Regions from separate parts of the Homo sapiens genome. Here region 2 is linked to region 1. Evidence: fine-mapped expression QTL. Tissue or cell type: whole blood. Region 1 holds a variant in brackets; the other region holds the start of a gene. All regions are shown on one strand. Distances are between the middles of the regions.

The links. PIP is the estimated chance that this variant, and not a neighbour inherited with it, causes the effect.
Region 2: SLC38A4-AS1 starts here. The variant in region 1 is fine-mapped to the expression of SLC38A4-AS1 in whole blood (TOPMed, PIP above 0.99).

What each region holds. Positions count from the first base shown.
Region 1 is chr12:46,455,701-46,463,805 of GRCh38, forward strand. The region is part of intron 2 of SLC38A4-AS1 (SLC38A4 antisense RNA 1); the gene reads left to right. The region is part of intron 1 of LOC124902923 (a long non-coding RNA gene); the gene reads right to left. Among named protein-coding and RNA genes, the nearest start is that of SLC38A4-AS1, 76 kb to the left of the region's middle. The variant A/C (reference allele first, on the strand shown) is at 4,378.
Region 2 is chr12:46,379,798-46,387,902 of GRCh38, forward strand. It overlaps SLC38A4-AS1 (SLC38A4 antisense RNA 1), which reads left to right and starts at 3,879. Exons shown (of 4, transcript NR_125380.1): 1 at 3,879-3,898; 2 at 7,950-8,105. RefSeq lists enhancers at 3,243-3,750, 6,444-6,945 and silencers at 3,305-3,664, 3,815-3,884.

The DNA of each region.
Region 1 (8,105 bases):
TTCCTCTCCTACTTCTGTTTAAACTGATAACCTTGCCCAACACTGGTTAATCCCAAGAAAGATATTGGGACAAAGGTATCTATTGGAACACTCTCTTTTGGCTTAGTTGTCTTCATAATTCCTCTTGTAGGTGACTGGTTATCTTGATCTCTCCCACAATTGGTTTGGAAGCCTGCTCAGCAGCCCCTGTCACTCAACTCTCAAAGATCACTTTTGTTTTCAAGCAAATACTAAAACAGGTGGAACCTGCCACCAGTAATATGACCCACTGAGTAGAGAAGGTGACTCAGTCTTGGCAGCTCAAGTCAGGCTTGGGAGAGGTGACTGTGGGAATCCAAATGAACGGCTTATTTCCAAAGAATGTGCAAAATTCCAGTGTCAAAAATGTGAACAATTCAGTGCAACTGGACACACCTGACACACCTCTGCAGTCTTCCTCACACAAAGCCACCTGCTCTAAGTCAGCTTCAGGAGAATCTTGTTTTCTAGCACCCACAGGAGCAGTTCCTACAACTCAAGGGAGAGTTCAGATGGAAGGAGTGTTTGCTCCAAGGCTTGATATGCAGCTCAGAGTTGGAAGAAGAGTTTCCAGTGAAGCCCATGATGAAAGTTGATTATGAAACACTGATGTTTCTCACTTTTTTTACACTTTCATTTTGCTGACCTGTTATCAGTAATTTACGTGTTCCTCAGTGTCAAAAAACATGAATAGTTCTTATAGCCTTGCTTCCCTCTCTTCCAAGTCTCAGAGCTTCTGCTGGGTCAGGTTAACCCAAGCTCAAAAAAATCTTGGAGTTTTTCCAGGTAGTCAGTTCTTTCTGCTCAGCTGCCACCATGACTTCTTAAATTTATATAAAGGAAGAATAATCTAGTGGGGAAAAACTTGGCTGTATTAAGAGAAGACATGAGTTTGAAGCCAAGTTTCATTAAGTTGATAATTATGTGACTTTATCTCCTTTGAGAAAGCTGCTTTGTCTCCTAGTACATCTGGTTTTAATTTTGTATGATACAGATAAGATACTGGTCACATGGTGATGTACAAGGATGCTCTGAAAATGAAATAAGGCATACTAAGCTCCAAGACTCTTTTGATATAAATCCTACATAAAGTCAGCAGATTGAGGTTATCATTATAATGATGTAAGTGGTTGTAAATGCTCACCAAGGCTTAACTACATAAACACAGGGAAGAGGAAGAGAGACTTTTTTTTAGTTAAAAAGAATAAGTGGCCAACACCCCAACCCCCTTTTTTTATTTTTACGGTGTGTGTACATTAACATTTCTAAATTACTCAATTCCTTCTTGTGAAGGTTTTGCTAAAACCTGTAAGTTTAGACTATCTGGTGAAAAATCATATCCTCTTGTTATTGATGTTTTAAAACTTTTAAGTATTTTGACCTAAATGCTAAAGAACAAAGTCAATTGTTCAACTAAAAAGGCAGAATGTAAATATTTATTTGGCTTAGGTACTCTCGGAGCATCTATTTTCACAATCAAAATACTTCCTCCCAAATATTTGAGAAAGAGTTATAATATGGCTCTTTGAAAAGCGTGGGAAATTAAGGATGAAATAAAAACGTGACTATAGACTTCCTCAATTTTGAATAAGATTTCAGTGAGGGTCTCTTATGATTGGATGTTGATTTTATTAGCTTTTTATGTGACTTCATACTGCTTACTTTTGAAAAACGTTAATTGCATTTAATAGAGACATGGTTTACAGTGAATTAAGTGAAATATTGAAAAACAATTCTTAGAAAATAAAAAAATGTTGCTTTCCATTTTATTCCTTTTTTATTTATTTATTCCCAGGCTCTGCAGATTAATTTAAGTTTCATAATTTTGTTTGCTTTCATAATTTTGTTTGTTACATATTCTTTTTTATTTGGAGACGGATTCTCACTCTGTTGCCCAGGCTGGAGTGCAGTGGTGCGATCTCTGCTCACTGCAACCTCTGCCTCCCCGGTTCAAGCAATTCTCCTGCCTCAACCTCCTGAGTAGCTGGGACTACAGGCACATGCCACCATGCCCAACTAATTTTTTGTATTTTAGTAGAGATGGGGTTTCACCATGTTGCCCAGGCTGGTCTTGAACTCCTAAGCTCAGGCAGTCCACCTGCCTCGGCCTCCCAAAGTGCTAGGATTACAGTTGTGAGCCACCGCGCCCAGCCACTAGTTATTCACTTTCTTGTTTGAACTTTTGATCGTTTATTCCTTTACTCGGCTGCCCATTCATTTGTTAATACACTTATGAAATATTCAATGACCTAATAATTTGTGCCAGTCGCTGTTCTAGCGACAATTACATTTCATTAATTTAAAGGCATATATTTTCATTTAGGTGTATTTCTTTTATATTTGGCAAACTAATTTGTTTTGAAGCACATTGTAAACACTAGAAAGAAATTGATGACTTAGTGTGGTAATAAGGGAATGTCTACAGTTCAGGTTTTTGACCAGGTCAGGGCAACAGCAGTAATGATAACAGCTTACACCAACAGAACCCTACCATGTACCAGGTGCTATTCCAAGTGCTTTTCATGAATAAATGAGTTGAATCCTTAAAATAACTGAAGATTAAAATAAGAGAGGAGGAAACTGAAGTAGATGCCTCACTTTAAGTGATGCTGTTAAAGTTACAGAGCCTAATAAATGCTGGTGCCAAAAGGACAATATTACAAATCTCAAAGTGTTTTTCTGAGGATTAAAATAAAAAAGTCATGCAACGTGTTTATATCTCAATAATCATTAGGGAAAAACCCCCAGATCATAGAATAATTGTTTTTGTGATTGCACCAAGTGACTCATTTAAAATGCAGTCTCTAGGGTGGACTTAACTCTGTCACCTACTAGCTGTGTGACCCTTCAAAAATTGTTTTACTTCTCTGTGCCTCAGTTTCCCATCTGTAAAATGAGCATAATTCCTGCACTATCTAAGTAGGTAACTATGAGGCTCTAGTCTAGGAGATAGGTTCATGACAGTGTGTCGCAGGCCATGAAGAACTCTGGGAGTGTAGGAATTTTGCAGCAGTGTCTTTTTTTTAACGGTCCTACCTGCTGGTAGGACACCCCCCTTTTAAAAAAAATGCGTAGTCTAAATAGTACACAAATCAACTTTTACCTCATTAGCATTTTTTTTTCCATTAAACACTTCTGGATTCTTGGTAATTCTTTTGTAAACCACTTCCTCCTGTTGAAATCTTGAACTAATTTTGATATAGAAACTAGCTGTTGGGGTGATAGTACATGAGCCAGTTTATTAAAATCATCACCTGGTCTTTGGAGAATGGTGGTCTCTTCTGATTCTTTGTCCTGGATTACAACTCCCTCTTGTCACCTACCCTCATCATAGAAACTCATCTTTAAATACTCTTAATTGACCACATCTCTCTATTCTGTAATTCTAGTTTGCAGAATAAGCTCTCCTAGATATATCATCTGATGACTATTCCAGTTTGCTGTGCTTTCTATTTTTCACATCTTGTGTTATTTGAAGACGTTTATATTTACCTAATCCCCCTAGCAGCCCCAGGGGAAAGCAGGATGCCATGAGGCTCCGAGCACGCTGACTGTCTACATTCATTGGTCAGAAGGAACAATATTCACTCCTCTTTGGTTTTCACACAAGTCACTACTTTCTTGACTCAACCACACATCCCTTCCTTTGTTATGCTTGTATTTGAGTCATTGCTCCTGCTGATAACCAAATGCTGTTTTGCCATGTTCTTTTCTTTTTTCTACTCTTTGGAAAGTCTAACGACTTGCTCCTTTTCTGTCCCCTACAGAGAGGGCAATGGCTCATGCCTGTAATCTCAACATGTTGGGAGGCTGAGGTGGGCAGATCACATAAGGCAACAAGATCGAGACCAGCCTGGCAAAACTCCATCTCTATTAAAAATACAAAAATTAGCTGGGCATGGTGGCGTGCACCTGTGGTTCCGGCTACTTGGGAGGCTGAGGCAGGAGAATCGCTTGAACCCGGCAAGTGGAGGTTACAGTGAGCTGGGATCGCTCTACTACACTTCAGCTTGGGTGACAGAACAAGACTGTGTCTCAAAAAAAAAAGTAAAAACTAATATTAAGTTGACCTATTACTGTGGATTTAACTAGTACAGTTAGTGTGTTTTCTATGCAGGAGGGGGATGGAGGAGGGAGGAAAGCAGCTGTTATTATAAAACTGTAGTATATGTTTTAAAAACAGTTATAATTTTTATCTTTTTTCTATTCTTAGAAGCAATACGTCTCACACTTCAGGGCTAAAATGTACTTCTCTTCCTCTTCTAAAATCCTGGATACAAATCCTTGGTCTTAAGTTCTCTTTTCCATTCCAGGACACTTTCTAGCCAAAAGTGGAGGTTGCGTTGATCAGGAAGGGTT[A/C]GGCAACCTTTGTTGTTGAAGGACAATTTTGATGGAAGGATCCTGTCCCAGTCCCTCCCCTCCCCTCTTCTTCCTCTTCCTCCCCCTTATGATTTGCTGAGCTCTTCAAACACTTTGTCCCTGGGATCACCCTCGCCTCTGGGATGGAGCGCTCCATTGTGGCACCCTTATACCTTGCAAGTGCCTTCAGCAGTGCTTCCGTCAGCCTTGGAGGGTATAATCTGGAGCTGGAGGTTTCTAAGCAGTCAGGCTGCTGTGAGCATGATGTTTTGGTGTGTTTGCACCAGCTTCCTGTTGCAGAGTTTGGGAAGTGAATCTGGTAACTGCCTGAACAGAAACACTTCCCCTTACTTTCTACATCAAAGAGAAGTTATGAAGTTACCTGACATTGGTGTCACTTTTTAGGAGTAAGGACAAAGCATTGTGTTTTAAGGAGACTACATAAATAGGGAAAGGACCTCAGCTTCAGCTAAAAGAGGTCACACAATTTCTTTTAGCCTCAGTTTCCTCTTATGTAAGATGAAGTGATACTATGCCCCTTGCATGGTTGTTATGAGAAGGCAATGAGATAATTTAAATGAAGTGCCAGGTACCTTGCGGGGGGCACTTAATAAGTGGTAGCCATTTCTGTTATGGAGAATAGGTTCTGTTTTGTATAAGTGTTGTGGACTATGTCTTCTGAAGTTTGTTTTGTGAGTTGCAGTCATGTGATTCATATTTCCAGTATAGCCCCTGTACACTGTGTAGGTGTTTATACCCACTTTTGCCAGTGGAGTGAGAGCTCCTGCAGGAAAGAGAGGCATGGTGTGCTTGCTTATCTACGTGCTGGGGTAGAGAGGCATGGAAGGAAGGGCCAAAGAGCTCAGGCTGGAGCTAGGCTGTCTGAGTTTAAATGCTGCTGCTAAGTTAGTAGCTGTGTAAACTCAGGCAAGTTACTCAGCTTCTCTGTGTTTCAGTTTCGTCATCTGTAGAATAGAGACACTACTGTATACTACCTCATAGAGAGGTTGTAAGAATCAAATGAAAAAATTCACAGATATATGTAAAAGGCTTAAAACAGCATCTGGCTCAGGGTATACTGTTACTATGTACAGCATACATCAGACTCACTGTATGGTGAGTGCTCCCTAAATGCAAGCTTGCAAATGAGTGGGAAGTAGAGCATCCCTCTTTCTCTGTGTTCTATAGGGATCCCAAATAGAGGTGTGAACTACACGTGCTTATAAGAGATAGAATATCAAGTAGAATTTAGATTCCTGTATATGGGAGAACATTCCTCTTCTGCTGGACTCTGTTTCTGCTGCACCCTTGATTTCCCTCCCGTTTGGTATTCCCAGGGTTCCTGTTCATATCTCTTTGGTCATATCTCCTGGTCATATCTCTGGTGGTCAGTTCTGTGGGGACAGCACTATGTCCAACTTGTTTAATGTTATATCAGTAACTCCTAGCCTCTGGCATGATAGATTCTAAAAGCATGTTTAACAAATGATACATGGAACACTAGAAAGTGCTATTGAATGTAAGCAGTTTCCAAGAGACACTATTTGTGCACTTAGTAAGGTCAGTACACTGGGCCAGGGCGGGGACAGGAATACGTGAGAACACAAGTGTAGTGGGAACATACTGTTAATTTACAACCACAGGAAAAAAACAAATATGCAGGGTCATAAGCCTTGATTTAGAAAATAGTCCCATTATATATAGTGGTAACCCCAAACCTCGGTATTTAGTTTAGGGTAGAATCTGGGAAGAGAAATTGAACGGGAGATTCAGCCCGGAGGAATCACATGATAAAGACTGACTAAATATTGTAAATTTTTCTCAGAGCAAACTTTTATAATGCATGTTTCTCAAATATTAATTGATGGTCTAGTGTCTAAAAGAAATAAGCCCAGGAAGGCTATGCCATTGTATTTTTAGAAGTACTTAAGTGACCTCTAGCCACTCTAACAACTCCTTGAGAGTTATGGCAATATCCAGGATGTTTTGTGTCTTTGTCAGGCATATGATATATTACTGTCTGCCTGGCCCAGTGTCTTTTAAGGAATTCTGTGGATCAAGTGTCAGGCCATGGCAGGAGACTTGTTCTAAAACAATCATCAGCCTGGTTGAAACAACATAAAAAAAAGTTTCTAAGTTTACTATGAGTGTTGTTCATTGCACCTCACTGCAAAGCTATTTTCCTTTGCATCTTGCAGTTGTTTTCATGGTGGCAACTCCTGCAAAGCATATATGACACCCGACAAAGGATGTCATGGCAGGTTGAGTGTTCTATCTGTAAGCCTTTCTAATTTAGCAGTAAAATTTTAAAGCAAAGCCCAGAAAATCCTTGTTGATGTTTGACTCTATGCCCATTAAAGTCTTTTATGCCCCCAAAGAATTGAGATCTTCAGATAAAATGTGAAGTGCAGCACAAACGAAAACACGTTTGTCAAGTATTAAAACATGCTGGGACTTGGAGGCGTTGCAAGACCTTTTACAAACTGCATATAGTTTTATAAATTTAACAAATGACATGAAATTTTATCTTTATAAGTGAAACTCCCAATTCTTGTTTTTCTTTCTCAACTGGAGGCAACTAGAAAAAGAAAGACTATTTTTGCTTTAGGATTGGATTTATTTTAGGGCTATTTGTTGATTTTTGGATGTATTACAAGCCCTGGTGGGAGAGGGAAGTTCTGGAGCCAGAAGGACCAAGTTTTTTATTCTGCCTTTGGCATCAATCAGGCACATACACTGGGGCAAGTCTCTTAACTTTCTGATGGTCAGTTCCTCATCTGAAAAAGGAGTAACATACCTACCTCACATGGTAGTGTCCAGCACATACTGGGCAACATTAATTTTAAAATCTGAATTTAGGTTGCTTTTTAAACATACATATCGGTGGAAAGAAAACTGGGCTTAAGCCAGAAAACCAGTCTTTGTCCTGCTGCTTCTTAGTTTTCAACAAATTAACTCAGAAACAGAAATTTAGAACTGAAGGGATTTGGAGGGAGCCCAGCCCTCTTGACTTTCAAATAACAAAACTGAGGACCAGAAAAATGATAAGCCTTGCTTAAGGCCATGCAAGCTAGTGACAGGGCATTGAACATAAACCAGCAGTCAGGGTGCCAGGTCCCAGCCTTCTTCAGTCCTACGGCCCTGTCTTTTGGTAAAAAGCTACACAGATTTGTTATGATTTAATCACGTTTGTTTCCAGTGTCAACCTAATTTGATATTCTTAGTGCCAAAAAGACTTCTTCAGACTAAAAGAACAAAATGACAACCATGACTATTTGACCAGAAGAGAATTATAGAGCAGAGGATCTTAGAGTTCTGACATAGCTCAGAAAGTTAAAGATCAGGACGGTGACTATCGGCCTGGACTGATGCATGGACATGCAGTGTCAGAACTCCTCAAAGATTCTCAATCTTTCCCCCCCATATCACAGCTGACTTATTCTGATGGGAAAATAGAAAGGTACCTCTTTGAGGGAAAAGCACATGTATTACATATTGTTTGAAACCTCCACAGGGGCTTGTACAGTGCTTAGCACCCCATTGATTTCTTTAAATGCCTTCTAAATAGTATGGACAATGAAAAACTACTACTAGAATTTTCAGTATAGGGTATTGATGGGATTTACAAACTGAATGCACCTGTGCAATCAGCACCCTGATGTATACATACAGAACATTATCAGCATTCCAGAAGCCTCCTCCATGCCCCCAGCAGGGGTACCTCAATC
Region 2 (8,105 bases), 76 kb before region 1:
AATATTAATCTTTCCAGGTGCCTGAGGAAATTCTTGTCTCAACTCTTTTTTTCTTTTTATCATTTTGTATATATTATTCTTGGGATCATATTTAGAAAGTGCTTGATAAATGAACGGTTGTATTCAATCTTGTAAGATAGCTCTCAAGTCTAAAGCAACAGTACGGACTCTGGGAGTGCTTTGCTGACTTTGGCATGTTTTTCTGGTGTTGACAGATACTCTATTAGATATCAATTGCTATGTAACAAATTATTCCAAGACTTAGTGTCTGAAAGCAACAATAATTTATTATCTCTCGAAGTGTCTATGAATCAGGAATTCAAGAGCAGCTCTGTTGGGTGTTCTGGCTTTAAGTCTTTAATGAGGTTGCAGTCAGCTGTGAGAGGGCTCTAGTCATCTGATGGCATGACTGGGGCTGGAAGATCTTCCAAGGTCATTCACATGTTGGTAAGTTGGTGCTGGCTGGTTGCTTCCTCTCCAAGAAGGTGTCTGCACAACCCTGACTGAATGTCTTCATGACATGGCAGCTGGCTTATCCCAGAGCAAGTTAGCAAGAAAGAGCAAGGCAGAAGCTGCAATGCCTTTATGAACTAGCCTTGGAAGTCACACTTTATCATTTCTACCATATTCTATCAGTCACAAAGGCAAGCCCTGATTCAACATAGAAGGGGACTACACAAGGGAGTGCATACCAGGAGGTAAGCATCACTGGGGGCCATTTTGGAGGCTGGCTACCACAGAGAAGTTGTCAGCAGCAAGAATATTTTTATTTTATTATTTTATTTTATTTATTTATTTATTTATTTATTTATTTATTTATTTATTTTTATTTTACTTTGAGACAGGGTCTCACTCTGTCGCCCAGGCTGGAATGCAGCAGTGTGATCAGAGAGCCCAGGTTCAGGTGATTCTCCCACCTCAGTCTCCTGGGTAGCTGGGACTATAGGCACAGGCCACCACGTCTGGCTAGGCTAATTTTTTGTAGAGACAGGTTTCAGCCAAGTTGCCCAGGCTGATCTCAAACTCCTGGGCTCAAGCAATCCACCACCTCAGCTTCTCAAAGTGCTGGGATTATAGGCATGAGCCACTGTGCCCAGCCAGAAAACATTTTATGGCAATAAACACAATATGCAATTGAAAGTGGCTTAAATAATGACACTATCTCACATAATAAGAAGTATGTAGAGAGCACAGTTCTGGGGTTAATTCTTGGCCCTGATACCTCCCTCCAAGACAAAGAGCTCATTATATTTTCACTTTGCTTTCTTCAACATGCTGGGGATCTCTCCCATCATGGTCACATGTTGGCTGCAGTGGTTTTAGGGGTCATAGGCAGACAGGACCACATCCATTGCAAAAGAAAGGAGCGTCATTTTGTGAGTTAATTTTATTTTGAGAGATAACATTTCCTGGAAATGCTGTTATTGTTGTCTCAGATCCCACTGGCCAGGACTGGAAAACATAGTAATGCCTAAAAAATATATTATATTGTAAATCCATATATTTGCAAGCATCAGTATTTTGTAAATGCATACCTCATTTTTCAGCAAGAAAAAGAAAATTAAGGGGCCCACAGAAACTCAGTCTTAAAAAAATTTAGAAATATGGCTGGGCGCGATGGCTCATGTCTGTAATCCCAGCACTTTGGGAGGTCGAGGCAGGCGGATCACCTGAGGTCAGGAGTTTGAGACCAGCCTGGCCAACATGGTGAAACCCCGTCTCTAGTAAAAATACAAAAATTAGCTGGGTGTGCTGGCAGGCGCCTGTAATCGCAGCTATTTGGGAGGCCAAGGCAGGAGAATTGCTTGAACCTGGGAGGCGGAGGTTGCAGTGAGCCAAGATCGCGTCATTGCACCGCAGCCTGGGCGACAAGAGCAACACTCCGTCTCAAAACAACAACAAAAAATTTAAAAAAATTTAGTTTTACAGATACTTTAGTACAAACATACCCAATTCTGTCAAGACTGAAGAACTTTCCAGGGACCTAGTATCAGAACTCTGTTTCTCCCATCTCCTTCCCAAATAAAAGAGGGGAAATAACGGCTTGACTAATGACCTTCTTGTGATACTTACCTGTTGGCCTTTTCATTTGACCCTGGAATGGTCTATTTTGCTAGGTGTAGTATATGCCAATGAATGTGAAAGAAAACAATGGCAGAGAGATGAAGGATTTATAGACAATGGTTCTTTGGCTAGGTAAACTGACACCTGCTAATTACCAATAAGTGTCTTGGAAAGTGAAATGTGAAAGCAAAATCACAGATACGATTCTCATATACATGCTTAAGGTTATTCAGAATGTGGTAAGGTCACAGCAACAATCAAGAATTAAGCTAAAAAACAAGCTGTGTATATTCTTAGTAAAGAAAATAGAAGTTTTATTGAAGTGCTCCATTGTTTTAAAAAATTAAAAATTTCAGATCCTTACAATTTTCCAAAACAGGATCATTAAAAAATACCTTTATTTTAATACTTGTTAGGGGTCTTCTTGTCTAAAGAGAAATGACAGTGACTGAAAGAAGGTGTGCTACCCAAAGCACTCGTAGGCCACGATGAACCTACATTCCTGGCCTTCAGTCAGTTTCCGGATCTTTCTTTGCCCAGGGCTAAGATACTGAAATAACGATTTATTAAAATTAACACACCTGCAATTCTGGTTCTTAGATGGGAACCATTTAATATATGGGCTTGGTTCTGAGATCTTTACTCAATAAAACTCCCAACTGTTTTGACTGACATCGTTGGCACTTCGTGACTGATTAAGGCACCTGCCTCCGGTTCCATGTCACTTCGTCTTGGGACACGTGGCGCTAATGCCACTTTTCAACCCCCCACCCCATTCAGCGACATTAACCCGGGCGACAGTCCAGGGCTAAACAGTTGCTGAAACAGTTAAATGTGTGTTTTATTGAGGTGAACCACGTACACAACAACCCCCTTTGAGTGAAACAATTTTGTTGTGTAACCATTTGTCACTTCTACATGGATGAGGTCAACGAAATCCTCAAAGTTGCTGTCTCAGGAATAAATTTTGTTCGTGGTTGGGAAAACGAAGTGGAGAATGTTATGGGATAGAGAAAATAGCTTATTTTCTCAGTGGTTAAGTGGGAGTGGGTAAAACACAATTGGCCTTGCATGTGCTTTGTTTAAACGGCGGTGCAGTAATTCTAAATGAGAAGACAAGACGCCCATCGTCACCGTCTTCTCCCTTTGTCTCACATTCCGCCCGGAGATGTGGGGGGTCTCACTCAATGCGGAACGGAGGTGGCGGGGGTGCGGCGCCCCAGAGGCGAAGGCGGAGGCGCCAGGACGCCGCTCCTGGCCTCTCAGGATACCAGCAGGCTACACGCAAGGTCGGGGGCAAGGCCGCGTGGCGGCTTGGAGCCGCGCGAAGGAAGCGAGGGCTGGCGGCCCCAGGGCAAAGGGGTCTGGCGGCGCCAGCCTGGGGCGCTGCAGCGGGCGGGGCGTGCGCAGCGCCGCTCCCCGGAGAGAAAGGAACCTCCGCAATGTCGGGGCCCGGCTGCGACCGGAAAACGGCGGGGGAAGAGAGAAAAGGAGGAGGGAGGGGGAAAAGGAGGTGGGGATACGAAGGAGCGGGGAGGCGGCGGGCGGGGCCTGCGGCGCGCAGCCCCAGTAGATCTCCGGAAATTTTCCACTAACGCTCCGAGCGCCAGAGCCGCCCGGGCGCAGCCCGCCTCTGCGCGCCCGCGACCCACGTGACGGTGATTCATTCGGCACCGCCTCCCCAGCCCGCGCGCGGACTTGGAGCCAAGAGTGGGAGCAGGGGTCGGGGGGAGGAGAAGGTGGAGGAGGAGGCGAAGAGGAGGCGGGGAGGAGGCGGGGAGGAGGGGGGAAGGGTTCGGGGAGAGGGAGGAGGGGAAGCAGAGGGGACGATGAGGTGCGGAGGCGTTGGCAGGTACCTGGGCCCCGCCGCCCGGGTGTGTGGGGGTCGGGTCGGGGGTCCAGCAAAGCCCCATCCAGTCGAGCCTGGGCAAGCTGAGAGGCTGTCGGGTGCGCTCCAGTTACGCTCCCCTGCGTCGTGGAAAACCTAGAGAGCCCTACAGCGTCAGGGCTAATCCCGGGACGCCTCGAGGCCCCGCGGAGTTTTCGCGAACGCGCCGGGCGGTGCAGGGATGTCCTGCTTGGGAGAGTGCAGGGTTGGAAGCGGGCACGCCCTGTTGGCAGCTGCCGGCGCTTGTGTACGTGGCTGCTGACGTGGAGAACTGTAGCTGTGGAAAGCCTGCGCCCCAAGGAGGGACGCGGGGGTGCAGTCGCGGCCCATTATCTGTGCCCGGGAAGTCCTGAAGGCTCTAGGAGCTGTCAGATTAAACCCCCAGACCCACAAGAAAATCCCTGAAGCTTCGGTGAGCGTGGGATTTGGCGTGCAGTTGGTTCCGTATGGTTCCCCATTAAGACTTGGAAGTCGGCTTACCAAGATTTCCTCTTACCCTTCGGCTGTGTTGAGTAGATATTACACAGACACCCCGCCCATGACTCTGCTCTTGCAGGAAAACATTTATTTCAAAAATACTGCAACGGTTTCATCTCTCATGTCCTTTTAGGTTCTTTCTAGTAATTGTGAACTTTTCCTCTCAAGTCATTCCATCAAAGTCTTGGAAGCAAATGAAAAAAACATACTACCCTGAAATAGAGTTCACATCTTTCTTTACCAACTTGCCTTTCCCAGGAAGACATCGTGGTGGGTTTGCAGTTCAGGTTTCCTCACAGCCTCTCCTGGGGGTCTTTTTCCCTCTCTGGTACCTTGAGGCATAGGACAGAAGGGAGCTGCTGAAGTTTCTGGATGTCGCTTATTTTTCACATTTGTTTTAACTTCTTTTGGCCAGAACTGTGTATTGTTTTCGCATAGATTTCTGCAATTAGAATTATTGTAATTAGAAAGAATAATAATCTTCATATAAGGCTTAGGGTACGCACTACTTTAAGGTCTTTGTAAATGTGTGCATATTCATTTCTCTCATCAACTCTGAGGTAGGGGCTATTCTTACCCCATTATTGACCTTTTACAAATGAGGAAACTGATGCTTGGAGAAGTTAGATAACTCGCCCAAGGCCATTCCTTCTCTAAGAGGAGGAACTGGAATTTGACCCCAAACTGTCAGGTAAATCCAATGCTTTGTTCACTATGCAATAGAAATTCTTTATTAATAAATTTAATTGTGTTGAAATATTAAGTTTACATTTTGGTGGGATTTTCCCCCTCGTTTTATTAAAGTGGCCTTCCTGAATTTTATTGTGGAGGGATGTTTAAAGTTAGTTTGGGTAGAAAGCCACACACAATTGTAAAAAGGAAGTCTTATGAAGAAATCATGCATTCCAAGGCAGTGTTACATTTTTCTTAAAGGGTAGATTATTGAAATATTTGACCTAAGAACTCATTTTTTTTCTCAGGAGAAAGGTTTGTCTTCATACACCTTTAGCCCCGAGCAAATGGTGAATCCTCCAGGAGAATGACGATGAGGCTTTTTAGTCTTCAGGGTTCGATAAATATATATCGATTGAAATGTATTCAAAAAGTGAATACCCTTGAAAGGACGATGACATAATGCCAAATGAAAAGGAAATTTCCCAAAGAAACCTAAATAATGGATAGATTTGATAGCAAGATACTACTGGTTTTTTCCTTCTGGAACCTTCTTTTCTGCACTTGAAACCTTCCCTGTCCAGCCAAGACTGGGTTAGAAGCTCCTTTTGTGTGTTCGTGTGGCACCCAAGGTCTGCCCCTGTAGTGGTACTGACCACGGTGTATTCTCGTGGCCTGTTCACCTGGCTGTGCTTCCCAGGAGAGTAAGTGCCTGGAAGAGCAGGCATTCTGTCAGGCTCAACAGAGTGCAACAGCGTGTCCCCAGGGCTCAGGACAGTTGTTTGTCCTAGAGCTATGGGAGTTATTGAGCTAAGCAATACTTGTTAAAAGCATGAGCTTACACAATTGATCAGCCATGTCTTGTTAGGATGTACTGAATTGGAATTTAGCAGAAACTGGGAGAGCAATGTCCCCGTCAGGAAATGTCTGTTCAATCTTGGTCTGTGTATATCCTACTTACCCACATGTTATTTTGCACATAATAGTTTTTTTGATGTTTATTAAGAACAAAAACAGCCTCTTTAAAATTGTGTGTTCAGTTAGCTAACTGTATTTCAGCATCCAATTAATAATCAGAGGTTTAATAACTACAGCCTTAATTCTGGCCTCACAATGATAGAATGATAAAATCATAGGTTTTTTTTTTTTTTTTTTTTTTTTGGCTGAAGGAGATCTTATAACTGCTCTGTCCAATACACAACCACTGGCCACATGGCTATTTGAATGAATTAAAATTAATAAAATTGACAATTAAGTTCTTCAATAGGGCATTTTAATTGCTCAGTAGCCACATGTGACTACTTAAATAAAATTAATTTTATTAATTCATTCAAAAATGGACAGCACTGACAGATAGTTCCATTATTGTAGGAACTGTTATTGGACAGGGCTGATAAGTTACCGAAGGAAAAAAAACAGGTAAAAGAAGATATTTGAGATAGCTTAGCATTAGCATTGTTACATACAAAGAACATTACACTCATATTCAAAGTGTCTGCTGTTAGGTTGGTGCAAAAGTAATTGCGGTTTTTGCCATTACTTTTAATGAGGAAATATTTCGTATATGATAAACAGTTTTCCTTAGCAGTTGTACCTAAATTAATGCACATTTAAACATATTCAGGAGAATGAATGGTTCAAAAGGATTCCTTTTTGCATTCCTTTAAAGTGAATACTCATTCCAGTTGATCCTTTGTGAGTTCTATTTTTTTTTCTGTTTAAACATACTGAAATCAACTTGAGTCACTACACAAGTTTGACATTCATTAGATTTGGCTGTGCTTTTTAAGCTCGCATGATTGAGAAACTAAAATACTCAGTAATGTTGGTAAAGGACAAATGCCAGATAGTTTTGGACAGACCAAATATATATTTAATGACATCACACATGCAATACAGACAGTTCTCAATTTACAAACACTCTTGAGAAGCAGCCATAGGTTAAATATAAAACATACTGGGTGTACCTTCTTTAAAATCCTCTTAAGAACAGTACCACCTGGATATCCATTGTATGAACAAATTAGTATTTAAAAATAATAAAAATAAGTCTTAGAATTAGAGAATGTATAGTTTTGAGCTGTGGAGGCAATAAAGAGGCTGTGTAAAACTCAGGGGGAGTTAGTTGAGGTTATTTCCACAGTAGAGCAGATTTGCTTAAGTAACCCCCTGACAAAAATAGCTTAGTTCCGCCTCCCCGCAGCATGCCTGCCCCTCCCTGCTGTGTGCATTTCCCCCAGTCCTTCAGTCGTTAAAAATTTTCCCATTTCATTTATACTCCAGTTTCAGTTCCGTTGATTCAAAGTTTTGGGACTTAGGACAAGTTTGCTAGCTTCTCTGAGCCTCAGTTTTTTAAACCGTTAAATAGGAATAACAGCATGCTGAGTGCCAAGAATTAAAGAAAAATTTATGTGAAAATATAGATTAGAAAGAAAACTAATATAAATGCAGGGGATTATGATCATAATACTCATAAAACTTCAGTACTCCCTGGGAAGATCCAATGGCCGTCAGTCATGTGCACGTGATCAGAATCTGGGCCATCATATTTTTTTAAGCAAGTTGATGGCCTGAGGGTTCTTGGCCAGGTGGGAGGAGGCTGCTCTGGGATGTTGAAGAGAGATTTTAAAAAGGAGATGGAAGGCTGTGAAAACATAGTTCAAATTGGAGGGAGCTTGGGCAGATACCACCTTTTCTTTTAAGGAATGAATGTAATTGCTTGCATTTTGTCTCTACTTCCTTCCTCTCATTGATTTATTCCGAAGGCTAGAGTTTCTACTTTACATTCTAATTCATCTGACATAGCGTGTTTTTAAAAAACTTAGCATTGCTTGCTTTGATTTTCCAGTTGACTTTTGCTGATGGAGCCTCTCTGAAGGGCAAATTCAAAGTACAGCTGGGTGCTGCAGCACTGGAGTGCGAACTTGTGGCTGTGGTTATGAAGGAGCCTCGTCAGCTATGCCTTTAGCCCCTGGTGAAGCAGTGCCAGTCACACTTTGCCAGT